Linked DNA regions of Homo sapiens: all the other regions are reported to be linked to region 1. The links are microRNA targets in miRTarBase. Many come from high-throughput screens and were not tested one by one. Region 1 holds a microRNA gene; each other region holds the end of a gene's coding sequence.
The links. The annotated mature microRNA hsa-miR-221-3p reads AGCUACAUUGUCUGCUGGGUUUC and lies in region 1 at 1,951-1,973, opposite strand. An mRNA with a match to its seed (bases 2 to 7 or 8) in the 3' UTR can be bound and repressed. Matches are read on the target gene's strand: a 7mer-m8 pairs with bases 2 to 8, a 7mer-A1 pairs with bases 2 to 7 and ends in A, and an 8mer does both.

Region 1 (3,210 bases):
ACTATAAGAAAATAAATTACTGTTCATTATAAATTACCCAGTCGCGGGTACTTTGTTATACCAGCATGAATGGACTAAGACAGTGATCAACTCAGTTGTCAGAGGTCAGGGGTGGGATTGAATGTTGAAAGCTCCAACCCTCTAATCATACCTTGGTCTTTCTGACAACCAGCCTTCATCCTGAAGCTAACTTGCCACCACCTCTACTCCCCGCTAAGCCAAGTCATCTCATTATCTTGTTAGCATACAGAAAGACACTCATCACTCCAGAGAGTCCAAGGATCTTAGAAGCTCTTGTGTCAGGAACAGGGGACTAAGACCAAATACTTTAACAAAAGATGCTATCACCTCTATTAGTTAGAAAATTATGACAGTTTTAGCAGCTCTGTTCCAGGAACTGAGGGTGAAGACCAAATATGTCTTTTTCTTATTATATTATCACAACATTCAATCTTGCTTTGAGGATCAACCCAATACTTGTACCTGAGAGGGAAATGTAAACTTATCAATGGAATTAGGGAGTTCTTCACACCTGGCACCACTGTCAACACCTTCTCATTTAATGATAGGCAAAGGGACTCAAAGAACATCAGAAGTAAGGAGTGGAGGACTGGGCATGGTGGTTCAAGCCTGTAATCCCAGCACTTTTGGAGGCTGAGGCGAGAGGATCACTTGAGCCCAAGAGTTCTGTACCAGTGCACTCCAGCCTGAATGACAGAATGAGAACTCATCTCTTTAAAAAAAAAAAAAAAAAAGTATGAGTGGACATGGGAGAAGAGAAACTGTCCCTTTGGTAATTATGATTTATTAAACATAACCATGTTGCACAGAGCCACTTATTTCTCTTAAAAGCCTGTCAAACGTCTTAAGTGGAATTACTTTCTCTTCCCGGGTCACAAAAGCCAGTGGCTCAGGTACAGAATAGATAATAGAACTGATTGGTGAGTAGGAAGCCAAAAGACACACACAGAGAACAGTACAATCTTTTAAAAGCTCCAAGTCATTAGCTTTATTTTTACTGAATTCAGCATGGGATGACAAAAATGCATTATATCACTACCATCCATTATTACATGTAGACATTTATCCTTGTATTCTTTATATGTCCATTTTCTACGTTAAATCTGTTAACCAATACTAATTTAAATTACATGATTTCCTACTAAAAATATGCAGTTCATATAAGCAAGGGCAAATAAATCCTCCTTAAAACATTTTATTCCTTTATAATTGAGAACTTAACAGTCTTAATGGCTAGTTCTTAAAAAATGTTTATAGGATTAAGTTTATTTAAGAGAGCAGACAAACAAAACATATTGTAAAACTAGTATTTTCCAGAAGCAATTTCCATTCTCTTCCTTTCTTCCTGCAAACTGGTGTTTTATCTTTACAAGTTCTCTGTCATTCCATAAGAAAGCTGAACAGTGGTTAAAACATCCAGTTTGCTTGAATTCCTGAGTGATTCAGATTCCAGTGAGATTGAGGGTCATTCATAACAGTTACAAGGCTGGTGTGGTAAAGGGAGAACAAAAATAAACTGGGTTTCTGCAGGTAAGTGAGAAGACAAAATGAAGAGGAATAAGGTTGTAAGGCAGTATGATTAGGCTTGTGGGTGCTATGCCTTCTGATAATAATTATGAACAGAAATAGAAGCCAAAAAGTAAACAACATGTAAGTTGTCAATCTTTGACAGTTGAGGCAGGGAGAAGGAAGGAAGGATGACATTACACCTTATCTCTGGTTTACTAGGCTGGTGTGTGAGACCATTTGGGTGAAATCGTATTGAAATCATTCATTGCTGAGGTGATCAGCTTTCTTGCGGTCCTTTCTCTGCACTCTATTCAATGATAAACTCCACTGGTTTATACCTCCTGGAAAACAGTTATTCAGAAACATTATAGGGGTAGCATTGGTGAGACAGCCAATGGAGAACATGTTTCCAGGTAGCCTGAAACCCAGCAGACAATGTAGCTGTTGCCTAACGAACACAGAAATCTACATTGTATGCCAGGTTCATGCCCCAGACCTGGATGTTCAGCTTGCAAGTAATTCTCACATACTATTTCAACACAACTGCCTACTGCATTCAAGATTTCAAAATTGGCATTTGTCTTTTCTACCACAAGGAAAAGAAAACCAACAGTCAGAAATGCTGGGACTTACCTACTACCAACAAAATTTCCTTAAACCATCATATCATCAAGTTGTCATCATTTAATCATGACATCATGTTGAAAATGCCATCTAAAAGTCAAGAGATGAAAAAGCTGGATGGAAGGAAGGTCGGATAGATAAACTGGTAGGTACGTGGGCAGGTGGGTGGATGGATGGATGGATGGGTGGATGGATAAATGGGTGGATGGGTAGGGGTAGATAGGTAGGTAGGTAGATAGATGAATAGATTGATCTATCCAAATGATACCTTTCATAGGGGGGAAAGAGAAAAAAAGAGGTAAAACAAAAACAGGTAAGAGCTAAAACATGGATAAATATCCAGATTCCTCCCCCTTGTAGTATTGAAAGCAAATAGACCTCATCATTCATAAAACCTTGAAGGTTCCCAAGCCCCAGCTGATAATGTTGGACTTAACACCCTAGAACTTGACTCTCTCCTCTCTCTCTGTCTCTCTCTCTCTCTCTCTCTCTCTCTCTTTGTGTGTGTGTGAGTGTGTGTGTGAGTGTGTGTGTGTGTGTGTGTGTGTGTGTGTGTGTGTGTGTGTAATTCAAGGTAAAGTTTTCATTATTAAAGACTGCCCAATAATCTCTCTCAGGACACTGAAGCAGAAGCTAGAAGATGCCATCAGAGACCCAGTAGCCAGATGTAGCTGCTGATTACGAAAGACAGGATCTACACTGGCTACTGAGCCATTGAGGGTACCTACACCTTCCAGCAGCTGGGTGATCCTTTGCCTTCTGGGGAGGGGCTCTGTGGAAGAAAAAAGAAGATATCAGATTTCAATTGCACATTTTCTTTGGATCATGAATTGACATTTTGACAATATTCCCATGTACGTAATTTTAAACAACCTCTGGATTTATTTACTTATCCAACAGATACTGACTGAGTGACATTAAATAAAGTGCCACATATTTTCTTAGGTGCTGGAGATCCAGCAGCAAACAAAAAAAGTGGAAAATCTCTATACTTCTACAGCATACATGATTCCTTGTGACAAAATCTACAATCAATTATTTGGTATGTTTTGCAGT
Region 2 (3,210 bases), not on the chromosome of region 1:
TAGAAGTGGCTTTATTTTTAAAAAATAATTTAATCTAAAAAAGTAGAGACAAAGTCTCACCATGTTACCCAGGCTGGTCTCGAACTACTAAGCTCAAGTGATCCTCCCATCTCCGCCTCCCAAAGTGCTGGGATTTATAGGTGTGAGCCACCACGCCCAGCCAGAAGTAGCTTTAAATATGGGAGAGTTTTGTGAGATGCAAGAGGTGTGAAAAGACTCTTAAGTTTGATTAAGAAAGTTTAAACACTGGTGTTATATATTAACTTTGTTAATCAAGTATTTTCTTGTCTTCTCTTTACAGTGGTATGTTCAAGCCACTTGTGCAACACAAGGAACTGGTCTGTATGAAGGACTTGACTGGCTGTCAAATGAGCTTTCAAAACGTTAAATGAAATTGGATATCTAACCAAGGACATGTTTGATAAAATTGGTCTAGGCTTGTTACAACAAAATTAGTTTGTATCTTGGTTATTAAACAGTATCTGGGACTGGTTTGGGCAGAATATTAAACTTATTTTGTTGCCAATTATTGTTTACCGAGTATAATGTTGCTATTTAGCAATGTGCTTGGTTTTAAAGAAATTCTCCTTGGGAAAAAAGTATCCTCTTTTAATTTTACTTCCCATAAGCGTAAATGCCTGGACATAGCTCTTGTGCAACCTTTAAATAAATTGTTTTGAGTGTTTTTTGAGCCCCAGACAAATAATGTTTTAAAGTTATCCCCTTGCTACTTTACTGATACCTTTATCATTCCTGAGACAGTTTGCTAATTTAAAAATGTAGCATTCCATTTGTATTTATTTCTCTCCCTTGCCAAAAAGATTTTCTAATACTGCTTGTACCAGCCAGAGAAAGATCCAAAACACTACTCAGCTCTCTTGCACTGAGGAAATTTTTCCCCCTACATTGACTCCTGGCCTACATCAGCCAAACTTAACCTTGGTGGGGTTTGGATTTGATAGCCAATTAGTTCTGTGCTGGTTGCAAAGAATTGATATTTAGATGGTTTTTAATACTCAGCAGATTGTCTTCCTTTATATTGTGTCTTTTTTATGTTGCATGTTGCTTTTGTTATCAGCCTGATTTTTTGCTCAGTATATGATAGTTCTGCTGATGTTTTGTTTATTGGGCAGACATATCTTCATTAAGAGTTTTTGGAAAACTCATCAAATTCGATGAATACATTTTCTTCATAACCCATTTGGAATTATTCCTAATAAAATGATAAAATACGTAATTGTGTGTGTTCTTTTTGAGTTTTGAAGGTATTTGAAATGTATTTTCTTATGTAGCCAACTTTGCTTGCATATTTTATGTACTGTGAACAGTAACACAGATCCCACTGGTAGGTTACTAATTGTATAAAGTGGAGATCTAGATTGTTTTCATGTGTATAACAGCATGGGGAACACTATTAAAAACATAGTTTTCTAAAGTCAGATCAAGGGTAAAAGGAGGGCCTGGCATGGTGGCTCACGCCTGTAATCCTAGCACTTTAGGAGGTTGAGGCAGGAGGGTCACTTGAGAATAGGAGTTTGAGATCAGCTTTGGCAATGTAGTAAGACCCTGTTTCCCCTGTCTCTACTTAAAAAACTAAAAACAAAACAACAACAACAAAAAAATCAGGTGGGGGGTGGGGAGGGGCGGCATGTGGAGTGGGGTAGGGAGAGTAAAAGGCTGTAATAAAATGAACTGCCCAAAAAGCATGTATGTATGTGTTTTTTAGTTAAGGTTAATTAAACAAAAAAATTCAGGTGCTACTTGTATGGCCAATATAGAGACTTAGTGATGCTACTTTCCTACAAAAAAGTTTCACAACCACTTTTCTTTTTAACAGGGCAAATTTTAGAACTTTAACAGAAAGCTGCATATAATTCATACAAAGGTATACCTCATAAACTACATCTATTAAGTTTTAAGGGCTCAACTTGATAACTGAGTAACTTAGTTTCTGTCTATATTCTCATGTTGCATTCTTAATGGCTTGTAAAGATTCAGCTAAATTTATGGATTGAAAATTCCAAAATCAAATGCATACTTTTAAAAAAATGTATATTTTTGAATTGTCAAATAAATAACAATGGCCAGGCGTGGTGGCTCACACCTGTAATCCTAGCACTTTGGGAGGCCAAGGTGGGCAGATTGCCTGAGCTCAGGAGTTCAAGACCAGCCGCAACATGGTGAAACCCCATCTCTACTAAAAATACAAAAAAAAAAAAAAAAGGGTCTGGTGTGCTGGTGCATGCTGTGGTCCCAGCTACTTGAGAGGCTGAGGCAAGAGACTCGCTTGAACCTGGGAGGCAGAGGTTGCAGTGAGCCAACATAGCGCCACTGCACACGGTCTGCAAGACTCTGTCTCCAAAAAAAAAAAAAAAAAAAACACTGGATTAACCAAAAGGAAATTAGAATTGGTTGATGATTAGGTAGGGCAAAGTGTATGTTTAGTTTGTGTTACTTGTTAGAAATGCAATTTCCCTAGCCAACTGGATGAATTCTCCTTTCTTCCTTCCAAAGAAGACAGGTGTCATTTCCTATAGGATAAAACTGAACTATAGTATAATTGTTGTGTGTGTAGTCTTATGGGGCATCAACTAGGAAATATAAAACATCAGTGAATAAGTTCAGCGTTAGGGCTAGGTATTTAACCTAGTTATGCAAAGGTGTTTACATGGACTGTAAAGGGACTAGAGAATCTATGTAATCTTACTCGTGATGTAAAGCAGCTCTTAGTACCATTGGAAATTACCTTTTTTTTTTTTTTTTTTTTTTTGAGATGGTTTTACTCTGTCACCCAGGCTGGAGTCCAGTGGCAGGATCTTGGCTCACCGAAACCTTTACTTCCTGGGCTCAAGTGATCCTCCCATCTCAGCCCCACAAGTAGCTGGTACTACAGGCATGAGCCACCATGCCCAGGTAATTTTTATAGTTTTTAAAGAAAGTATTAGGCTGGGTGGGGTGGCTCACATCTGTAATCCTGGCACTTTGGGAGGCCGAGGCAGGTGGATCACCTGAGGTTGGGAGTTCAAGACCAGACTGACTAACAAACATGGAGAAACCCCATCTCTACTAAAAATACAAAACTAGCCATGCATGGTGGTGCATGCCTGTAATCCCAGCTACTCGAGAGGCTGAAGTGGGAGAATTGCTTGAACCTGGGAGGTGGAGGTTGTGGTGAGCCAAGACCGCACCATTGCACTCCAGCCTGGGCAA
Region 3 (3,210 bases), not on the chromosome of region 1:
TAATGAACCTGGTACAAGGCCTGGCCCCAGGAGGTACTAATGAGCACAGATCTGGTTCCCAGCCTGTGCTGAGAGCTGGGCCTGAATCACTATTGCAGGCTTCTCTGTGGTGTCTGTTTTCTCCCCTCTAATTCAGCGGCTGCCTCCTGGGGCTGGGAGCCCTGGGCCTTAAGTCTGTGGTCCTGAGCTGCGTTTTCTGCCTCTCTTCCCAGACCCTGCTCTCTATTCCAGAGGTGGTGAGGGGATGCAAAGAACTACAGGGATTGCTGGAATTTCTGAGCTAAGAAACTGAAAGCCAGAATCTGCTTCACCTCTTTTTACCTGCAATACCCCCTTACCCCAATACCAAGACCAACTGGCATAGAGCCAACTGAGATAAATGCTATTTAAATAAAGTGTATTTAATGAATTTCTCCAAGCTTACGGAATCTTACTTTTTGGGTGAGAGGGGGCGGATGATGAAGTCAGGGAAGAAGCAGCTTGGGCCTCCTGCCTGGGCACCCTCCATAGATCCCTCTCCACCTCCTGCTGCATCCAAAGCCAAGGCTGCCTGCCCTTCCTCCCTTCCTCTGCTTTCACCAAAACTCTGGGCACTGGACTGCTTGTTCCCTGGCTCACCGCCTGGAGGAAACAGAAAGGCTTCATTCTCTTACTTTCCCCAGCCCCCTCGGGGGTATACCCTGGCAAATATGGGGGTGAGGACAGAGAAGCTCAGTTCATTACTTCCTGCCCTGAACTTGGGCACCTTGAAGATGCTTCTGCCCCACCTACTCAACCTGTTGTTACTGTTCTGGTGCCTCCTCTTCACCAGACTAAGCTTAATCCCCAGCATCCAGCAAGTGCCCGGCACGTGGTAAAGGGATTGTGGCAGAAATGAACGCAAGGTCATGGCCAGGCTCCCCGAGGTGGGAGGGCAGTCCCTAACAGCCACGGATGCCTGGCGGGGCGCTCACTCCACCTCGCCGCCCCGCCTCTGAGGGCGTGGTCTTGCCCCGGACACCAGTCCTGGGGAGGGGGTGTGGTCAGGGCGGGGCATGCAGGCCACGCCCCCGGAGGAGTCACGTAGCTCTGCGACATCCGCAGCCTCATTTACCAGAGGGAGCCAGGGCTGCAGCCTCATCTGTTTGCGGATCAGAACCCGAGCTGTGCTTGTGGCTGCGGCTGCTAACTGGCTGCGCACAGGTAAGGCCAGGCAAGGCGGGAGCCACTCAACATCTCCGCTTCATTTCCTTGGCTCTTCCCCTGCCATCCTCGTCCTGCTACCTGGGACTCCGGGATGTGCCCTTTCGACCCTTTCCTAACATCTTTGCTCCTTTCCGCGTACTTGAAACCCCATGGCTCAACCTCTTCTGTTCTATCCCTCTTCAGCTCTCCCAGCTGGACCTCAGCTTTTCCAATCCCAAATCCTCCTCTACTTGTTGGATTTTTCCTTGGAGTCTGTCTCTCCTACCCAGAGCATTTCCTTCTCAGCCTGCTCCCTCTCCTCCTAGGCTAGGTCCTCTCTCCAGTTCTCCCGCCTTCTCTGCCCCCCGGTCTAGGTCTCTCCCGCTGACTGGTTAGCCTGCATCACCACTAGCTCCCCTCAGTCTCATCTCTCTCTCAGGCTCTCTACTCCTTTCAGCCTTGGTCCTCTGCCCTCCCGTCTGGGTGTCTGAGTTGTGGGGAATTGAAGTGCTTCCTATTGCTATCCTCCTGCCAAACAGGTGAAGTGCTTCCTGGGCACAGAGATGACCCGGAGGTGTCACTAGCCCTAGTCTCCACACACTAACACAGCTGACCCGCTGGGCCCTCTTTCCTACATCACTGCAGCCCCACTGGGGCCAACCTCTGGTACTGGGTGGGAATAGGCAATAGGCATAGGCAGGCAGGTTTGGAGTACAGAAAAGGAGAAGCTGCAGGAGCCTGTGACTGGTATTTGTGCCACTCCTACTCCCTACCTGTTCTTCCAACCTTTTCCTCTAGAAGCTGAGAGAAGAGGGTGGCAATAAGTACTTTTGCCTCATTCTGAAGCCTTGGAAGTAAGTACACTTTCCCTAGGGGTCCTGTGGAGGATGAGAAAAGGGAAGCTGGAAAGGCCAGGACTTTTGCCTACCTCAACAAGGGACCAAGTTCAGTGAAAGAAGGGTTGGCATCCTTGATTGGGCAGCAGATTTATCAGAAGAGCTGTGGCTTCAGGGCTGCTCACCTCCCCACCCCCACCCTGCATCTTTCCCCAGGGCTGGGAAGGATGCCTACCAGGGACAAAAGGAGATGTGGGAACTGGAGCCCTAAGCTTGCTAGCTGTCAGAAGGACTGGTGCCACTTGATGCCCAGGACTCATGCCAAGGACTGCTGCCCTGTTCCCAGCCCCTTGCTTGATGGGGAGGCCATTTGGCCCATCTGGCCAGGAGAGGCAGCAGAGGGTGAGGTCTGGCTTTTTTATCTTGTCTCCACTCCAGGGAGCTGTCACCATGCCTCACTCGTACCCAGCCCTTTCTGCTGAGCAGAAGAAGGAGTTGTCTGACATTGCCCTGCGGATTGTAGCCCCGGGCAAAGGCATTCTGGCTGCGGATGAGTCTGTAGGTAAGTGGACATCTGTAGCCAGGTAGGGTACAGGTGGCTAGGGGACCCTGGGGATGTTCTCACTGCCTCTCTTTGTTTGCCCCTAGGCAGCATGGCCAAGCGGCTGAGCCAAATTGGGGTGGAAAACACAGAGGAGAACCGCCGGCTGTACCGCCAGGTCCTGTTCAGTGCTGATGACCGTGTGAAAAAGTGCATTGGAGGCGTCATTTTCTTCCATGAGACCCTCTACCAGAAAGATGATAATGGTGTTCCCTTCGTCCGAACCATCCAGGATAAGGGCATCGTCGTGGGCATCAAGGTGCAGCCCCTGGCCCTGCTCTGAATGGAAGCTGGGTGTGAAAATAAGCTTGTGTAGGAGGGGTAGCAAGGAGAATCCTGCCTGGATTCAACCCTCTGCTTGTACTTCCTCTACAGGTTGACAAGGGTGTGGTGCCTCTAGCTGGGACTGATGGAGAAACCACCACTCAAGGTATAGGATGGGTGGGCTTGAGGACCAAAGAGGTGTTAGATAGTTGATGCTGGTAAAAGAGGGGCAGAGTAATGAGGTTGGCACTGTGCTTGCAGGGCTGGATGGGCTCTCAGAACGCTGTGCCCAATACAAGAAGGATGGTGCTGACTTTGCCAAGTGGCGCTGTGTGCTGAAAATCA
Region 4 (3,000 bases), not on the chromosome of region 1:
GTCCCCTCAGCACTTTGTTCAAGGCTTGCTCATGGCACTTAACTGCCATCGAGGTTGCATGTGACGTTTAACAACCAGACTGTGAGCTTCCCCAGGCAAGGACTATGTATTTCATGTCCTGAGAGTGTCTCGCAGTTAAGAGCTTAATGTTTGTTTAAACTGCCTCTTTTTAATAGACTCTGCTGGTGCTCTGCGTGTATGGTGGTTTTTATCAGATGTATTTATATTCTAGGTGTGGAGTGAAGTTAACCAAGCTGTGCTAGATTATGAAAATCGCGAGTCAACACCCAAACTGGCAAAATTACTGAAACTACTACTTTGGGCTCAGAACGAGCTGGACCAGAAGAAAGTAAAATATCCCAAAATGACAGACCTCAGCAAGGGTGTGATTGAGGAGCCCAAGTAGCGCCTGCGCTTGCGTGGTGGATCCAACACCAGCCCTGCGTCGTGGGACTTGCCTCAGATCAGCCTGCGACTGCAAGATTCTTACTGCAGTAGAGAACTCTTTTTCTCCCTTGTACTTTTTTTTGACCTGGCATCTTTTTATAGGGAAAAATGGCCTTTGTAGGCAGTGGAAAACTTGCAAGGAAAGCTGCCGTCTCTTTGGCAGTCTGATGCAGAGCCTGCACTCTGGCACTCGCTGAAGAATCTGGAAGGTTGCGGTTTGCTCTTCCAGTGTTCGGGGGCCTCTGGCTGCTGAAGGATTCGGTCTACCACGGAGGGCTGTGCTGTTAGGCTGCATCCCACTCAAAATACAGGAAAAGCACGAATCATGATTCTGCTTTCTGTTAGCTTAGGCAGACATTGGGCCTTCACCTACAAGTTTTTCCTTACCCCTGTGGTTTTTGTGTTTTTTTTTTTTTCTTTTTCCATAGGAAAGAATATATAAATTTGTAAATCCTAATTCAAAGATGGCTCATGTGTGAGGGCATTGAGTTTGATTTGTTTTCCCTTTGGTCTGGGTTGTGTGGCTTTTGGGGGATGCGTGTGAGGGGGCTATGTGTTTTTTAATTTTTTAAATATATATTTTGGTGCTGTGTGTGGTAAGAGACTTGTTCCTAGTGGATCAATGAACCATCTCTTCTGGGCAGTTTTGTTGAAAATAAAGGTTTCTCTTTGATTTCAAGAATGACCAAAATGGCCTCTAAAAGATGTTAATCATCTCAAATGACCTTTTGTCTTTGGGGCGTTCTTCCCCCTGTGATAGCGGCAGTGGCTTTTTCTGGTACCTGCAGCTGGAAAGGCCACTTGGCCCTGTGCTGAGTGAGCGGCCTTCATTAGAGCGAGGCAGCCCTTGGCCGGTGGGGACGCAGAGCCCCAGCAGGTGGTGCACGACTGTTGGCGGAAGGAACGCGTGTTCATCCTCAGTGATCTGCCCTCCAGCATCTCGGCAGCATCTCATCCTCCATCGTCAGCTGGCTCTGCCGATGTCCTGCTTCTGTTCACTCACAGAACTGTCCCCTGCTCCGTGGTGGGCAGGAGGGAAGTGGTGCAGGGCTGCGTGCATTGCCTGCGAGTCGGGACAGTTGATGGGCACATGGCCTTGTAGCTCTGGGCACAGATGTGTTTGGATTCATTGCAGCGGACCACCGGGCACTGTTGACCCCACTGAGCAGTGCTAAGTGTTGGTTTAGTGGATGTTCGTGGAATTGCTGACCCATCCAAGGGCGTCCTTTGGAGCCAGTGGAGCCTGCCGGCGCATCTGAGGGGCAGAATGCTGCTAGCACTTGAATCTGGGATCTCGCCTTATTCTCAAGTAGCAAGGCATCTCGACAAGCATGGTCTAGGTCTGGTGGCCAGCTTGCCAGTACCTGAGCCGGTCGGGTCATCTGCCTCTGAGGGACCGTCCTCACCGAGCTCCTGCATCCCTTGAGTGTTGATCAGGAGGCGTCCACAGCATTGTTCTCGCCTCTGAATGATGCTTCTTTCTGTGTTGGAGCCTGGCGAAGTTGTGTTTTCAAGCCCTCTACTTCTCTTTCCAGTGGGTAGGAGCTTTTGGCAGTGTTTACTTTACCTAGATGGCTTATATAATCCAGTAAGAGATGCAAAGATAAAATTGCTGCGGTTGTTACAGAAGCATGGCGGCCTCCAGACTGACCCATTGGTTGCCCTTTAGATTTTGTAAGGATGCGGTGCTGGGGAGGTGGTGCTTCCCTACCCCCTAGAAATGCTGCCTTCCAACTACCACTCTCCCAGATGTGACCCTTGCGATTATTTCCTCTGAGGTTTGAGGATGAAGATAAGTTGGAGGGAAAGAGAGTAACTAATAGGGGATGAAATATAGCAGAAGCTAGAAGAAAGCGGTGAGGTGAGAGAGATGCATCTGCACGTTTTCTTCAACAGCACCAGGTGATTCAGCATATTCCTAATTACCTTTCACTATTCGTGTATATAAGATCGTTTACTTGCATAATATATCATCAATTTGACATATTCTTAAAACTAGAGGGTGTGAGAAGCACAGCAATAGGAAGTCTCTCCACAAACTAGGGGAACACAAATGGGGTCATTCACGTGCCTGGACTGTCACTATGTGGCTGTCACGTGAAGTGCTGGTGTTGATTTCCATTTCAGCCAGTGGGTAGCTGATAAGCCAGTGCCAGCATCCAGCATGAGCAGATGTCGGGGAGACTGGGAAGTCTCCAGCGTTACTGCTCTCCTTCCCTTCATGATAAGCCAGTGCCAGCATCCAGCGTGAGCAGACGTCGGGGAGACTGGGAAGTCTCCGATGTTACTGCCTGCCTTCCTTTCGTGTGAGGGGCTGCACTTGCTTTTCTTGTGATCTGTTAGTGGACGAGGTCTTCCAAGGAAGTGCTTTGCACACTTTCTTTGCTCCTTTTTACAGTCTTTGTCTTTGCAGCAAGCAAATGAAATTAAGCCACTTTGGGATAATGAACATTCAGTATAATTCTACTTTGTCTCATTTTGGATCTCACTGTTGTCTTTATAAAAATGGCACATTTTACAAAGTAGTTTATTCTTATTATACTTTCTGCTGGA
Region 5 (3,000 bases), not on the chromosome of region 1:
TCTGGCCTTGGCCTTCCAAAGTTCTGAGATTACAGGCAAGAGCCACTATCCCTGACCTAAAAGTTCATTTCTTTGGGGTGTCACTTGGCTTTCCAATTGTAGAGAGGTGCAAGGGCTAAACAAGTAATGAAAAAGATGCCTAGAAGGGCTCTTGTGATAAAAATGGGTTTGTTGCAATTCTTATTAGAGAAAACTGAAATAGTGTAACTACAAAGTGACGCAGCAACCTCCTGGCTGCCCATTCTAATGATATGAAGTTTGAATCTTGATTCCACTGGGGCTTTTGCCTTAGTAATGGACATAAAAGCTAACGTGATAAGAGAGTGTTACAGTGAGTTTCATACTGCAGCAATCTTCTTCAGTATTAATTGCTTATCAGTGTTCTATTTCCTCCTATTCTTAGAAATGACCACCATTTCTTTCATACCACCATTTTCATTTATTAGCAATAACAGAGGAAATACCAATAGCACCAATTCAAAATGAATCCACATGACGTGTTTTATCCTTACAGCTGTAATAACTAGTAACTAACATGGATTGGAAAGCACTTCGCAAATGTAAAAAGTGCTGTACAGATACATTATAATTATCATCATTAATAAATTAGCCCGATTCTCCTAGTTCAAAAGGCACGTAAGGTCAGATACATGGGCTTCAGTGGGGCAAAATGATCACAACCTACAATGTAGCAATGGTTCACATGTGTTGGTAACAAGTTTTACCCCATGCAATCCTGCAGAGCTGAAGTTACACACCCTTCAAAATATGGGAGAATGAAGCTAAAAGTAGACAAGACAGTTTTTTTTTAAATTTAATGCTTTTTTTAAATAACAGACTCCTACCTCTTTTATATTAATGCCTAAATAGATAATATAATTAATCAAACTTCTAAATTGTACATTATAACAAAATTAAAATGTCTTATTTAAGGTGACAGCAAATTTTGTTACTTTCTATGAGCTGATATTTCAGATACCATTAGAATTTCAAAGCATTCTGCAACTTCAAAGAGGTCAGATTGGTAAAATTTGTGCTTGCACACCCTCATGGAATATTGTCAGTATTCATTCCAAAATTGTTACTAGAACAAAACAGCTTTATCCATTCCCTTGCCAGCAGAAGTCTTGGCACGAGATGGCTCTTGGCTGGACCATAAATAAAATTCCTTGAATCACCAGTATCTTGATTTAAGAAAGAAATTTTACTGTGTCTTTCATACACAAAAGCTGATTAACAATGGTTAAAAAAACACTACTCCACTTTTTCACAGGTGTACAAAAGGAAATATAATGGAATTACATTCAACAATAAAGCTTAAAGTTCACTCTAGGTAATAGTTGCATTAACATTCACATACACAAGCACAGAGTAAGTATATTTCAGGAGTCTTAGCATAGCATACAGCATACATATGGGAGATTGATTTCAGGTAACATCATAGGTGTTAGTAAGATTAGCAATTCAGAGTGTTATAGAAAAGGAAAACTAAACCAAAGAGAAGGTGTAGGCTAGCACACCAAGACAAGTCACAGAATTAGTAGATTGAAAAATCTGCTCACTGTATGAGAAAACAATATTTTTCTTCAATTTTTGGGTCTTGATATATAGTTGGTTAGAGAAGGTTGTGTATCAAAGTGCACATAATTGTTTCTTAGAAAAGAGAGAGAGAGAGAGAAAGAGAGATCATTTTATTTAGTAATACATGCAAGAGGCAGCCCCAGAGTGACCTGAAAGAGTAAAGCTGTGATTGGCAGGTGGCCGATATAATACAGATGTTTCAGGCAATTCTCTTAAAGCACTTCTGTAGCAGCAATGATCATTTAAATGGCTGTAGACTGAATTCTCTTTTGAGGAGAGTTTAGGGGAATTGTATTCATATTTCTCTTTAAAGATTTATAGCTATAGACTTTCTCTTTTTTTAAATAAATCTATGAAACAACAAACAGCGAAAGGTGAGGTGTCGGGGTTTTCTTTTGCTTTTGCATAAGTATTGGAAAAGGATCTGGCCTTTTCATAAACATTGTGTGCAAAAGAATTTTTAATAAAGTGAGCACAGGACATGTATAGGAAACACATCAGATCTGCTTCTGTTTCCCAGGGTGGTTCTCTGTTAAAACACTGAACTGTTGGCTTGCAGGTATGATGCAGATTTTAGGTATAATGACGTCACAGCCAACAGACTTTAGGGTCTCCTAAAGCCTTGTCAGTGGGGGTAGTTTTGTCTCCTAGAGGGTGGCTGCCACCTCTTGAGTTGTAAGATTTAGAAAGTCTGGTCCCTTTAAGTTTACACTTCCCCTCCATACTGATAACTTCCGCTGTTTATTTGTCTTTGTTTTCTTGCCTTCCTTGTACCAATTAGTCTAAGCTGGCTCGTCTCAGCCAATATCTGGCACTCGCATACCCGCGGTAGCCACACATACCCAGTGGCCACAAACTCCCAAGCTGCTCAATCTCAAAACTTTTCAGCCTGCCCTGCAAGTGTCATCAAGACAGGATCCCCGGAGCACAGGGCAGAGAGTCCAACCTCTCACTGGCGGGGCTGGGAAGCCTCTCCTTTGCGGCGGAGGAGAAAGGAAACTTGGGTCTGCTTTTTAGGTTCTGAAAACAAGCCAGAGTGGAGAGAAAGAGTTAACACCAGACTTAGTAAAGCTTTTACGACAAAACCTGTTAAATGCGTTCTAGACAGACACAGGGAACTTTCTGCAGATTTCTGAGGTCTCTAAGAGGGCTCATGTAGATAGGAAAAAGGAGCAGGGAATTGCTACATGGGAGAGATTTGCCATTATTACAAAAACTGGCTAAGTGGCTTGTTTCCATTTGAGGACCTCACTGGTCACTGTTGTCAGTCGTGCTGTTCCCTTTCTCTTTTTTCTCCTGGGTCTTGTTACCCTTCTTCTTTTTCTTCTTTTTCTTGGTCTCCTCCTTTTTGCCGAAGGTTATGAAGTCACTTTTGTCAATTTGGCTGTTAGTAGGCTCCTGCCGGATGGAGATGATTGC

Region 2: the mRNA of ARF4 is a reported target of hsa-miR-221-3p. Seed matches in the 3' UTR shown: 8mer at 778-785.
Region 3: the mRNA of SPAG5 is a reported target of hsa-miR-221-3p. The part of its 3' UTR that is shown has no 7-base or 8-base seed match.
Region 4: miRTarBase lists GID8 as a target of hsa-miR-221-3p. The part of its 3' UTR that is shown has no 7-base or 8-base seed match.
Region 5: miRTarBase lists PCDHA4 as a target of hsa-miR-221-3p. Seed matches in the 3' UTR shown: 8mer at 2,763-2,770.

Annotation. Positions count from the first base shown.
Region 1 is chrX:45,744,230-45,747,439 of GRCh38, forward strand. MIR221 (microRNA 221) reads right to left here and starts at 2,037; the gene lies at 1,928-2,037. It overlaps MIR222HG (miR222/221 cluster host gene), which reads right to left. Exons shown (of 2, transcript NR_170290.1): 2 at 985-3,210. MIR222 (microRNA 222) reads right to left here and starts at 2,895; the gene lies at 2,786-2,895.
Region 2 is chr3:57,569,390-57,572,599 of GRCh38, reverse strand. It overlaps ARF4 (ARF GTPase 4), which reads left to right. Exons shown (of 6, transcript NM_001660.4): 6 at 302-1,237. The coding sequence ends at 388. It also overlaps a transcript of PDE12 not described here. Among named protein-coding and RNA genes, the nearest start is that of PDE12, 15 kb to the right of the region's middle.
Region 3 is chr17:28,574,773-28,577,982 of GRCh38, reverse strand. SPAG5 (sperm associated antigen 5) reads left to right here. Exons shown (of 24, transcript NM_006461.4): 24 at 213-409. The coding sequence ends at 284. ALDOC (aldolase, fructose-bisphosphate C) reads left to right here and starts at 1,088. Exons shown (of 9, transcript NM_005165.3): 1 at 1,088-1,182; 2 at 2,439-2,562; 3 at 2,649-2,860; 4 at 2,977-3,031; 5 at 3,127-3,210. The coding sequence starts at 2,451. RefSeq lists an enhancer at 686-865 and a silencer at 916-1,155.
Region 4 is chr20:62,944,507-62,947,506 of GRCh38, forward strand. GID8 (GID complex subunit 8 homolog) reads left to right here. Exons shown (of 5, transcript NM_017896.3): 5 at 233-3,000. The coding sequence ends at 406. Among named protein-coding and RNA genes, the nearest start is that of SLC17A9, 6.7 kb to the right of the region's middle.
Region 5 is chr5:141,009,767-141,012,766 of GRCh38, reverse strand. It overlaps PCDHA4 (protocadherin alpha 4), which reads right to left. Exons shown (of 4, transcript NM_018907.4): 4 at 420-3,000. The coding sequence ends at 2,830. PCDHA1 (protocadherin alpha 1) reads right to left here. Exons shown (of 4, transcript NM_018900.4): 4 at 420-3,000. The coding sequence ends at 2,830. It overlaps PCDHA2 (protocadherin alpha 2), which reads right to left. Exons shown (of 4, transcript NM_018905.3): 4 at 420-3,000. The coding sequence ends at 2,830. PCDHA3 (protocadherin alpha 3) reads right to left here. Exons shown (of 4, transcript NM_018906.3): 4 at 420-3,000. The coding sequence ends at 2,830. It also overlaps PCDHA5, PCDHA6, PCDHA7, PCDHA8, PCDHA9 and PCDHA10, and 7 more genes. Among named protein-coding and RNA genes, the nearest start is that of PCDHB1, 40 kb to the left of the region's middle.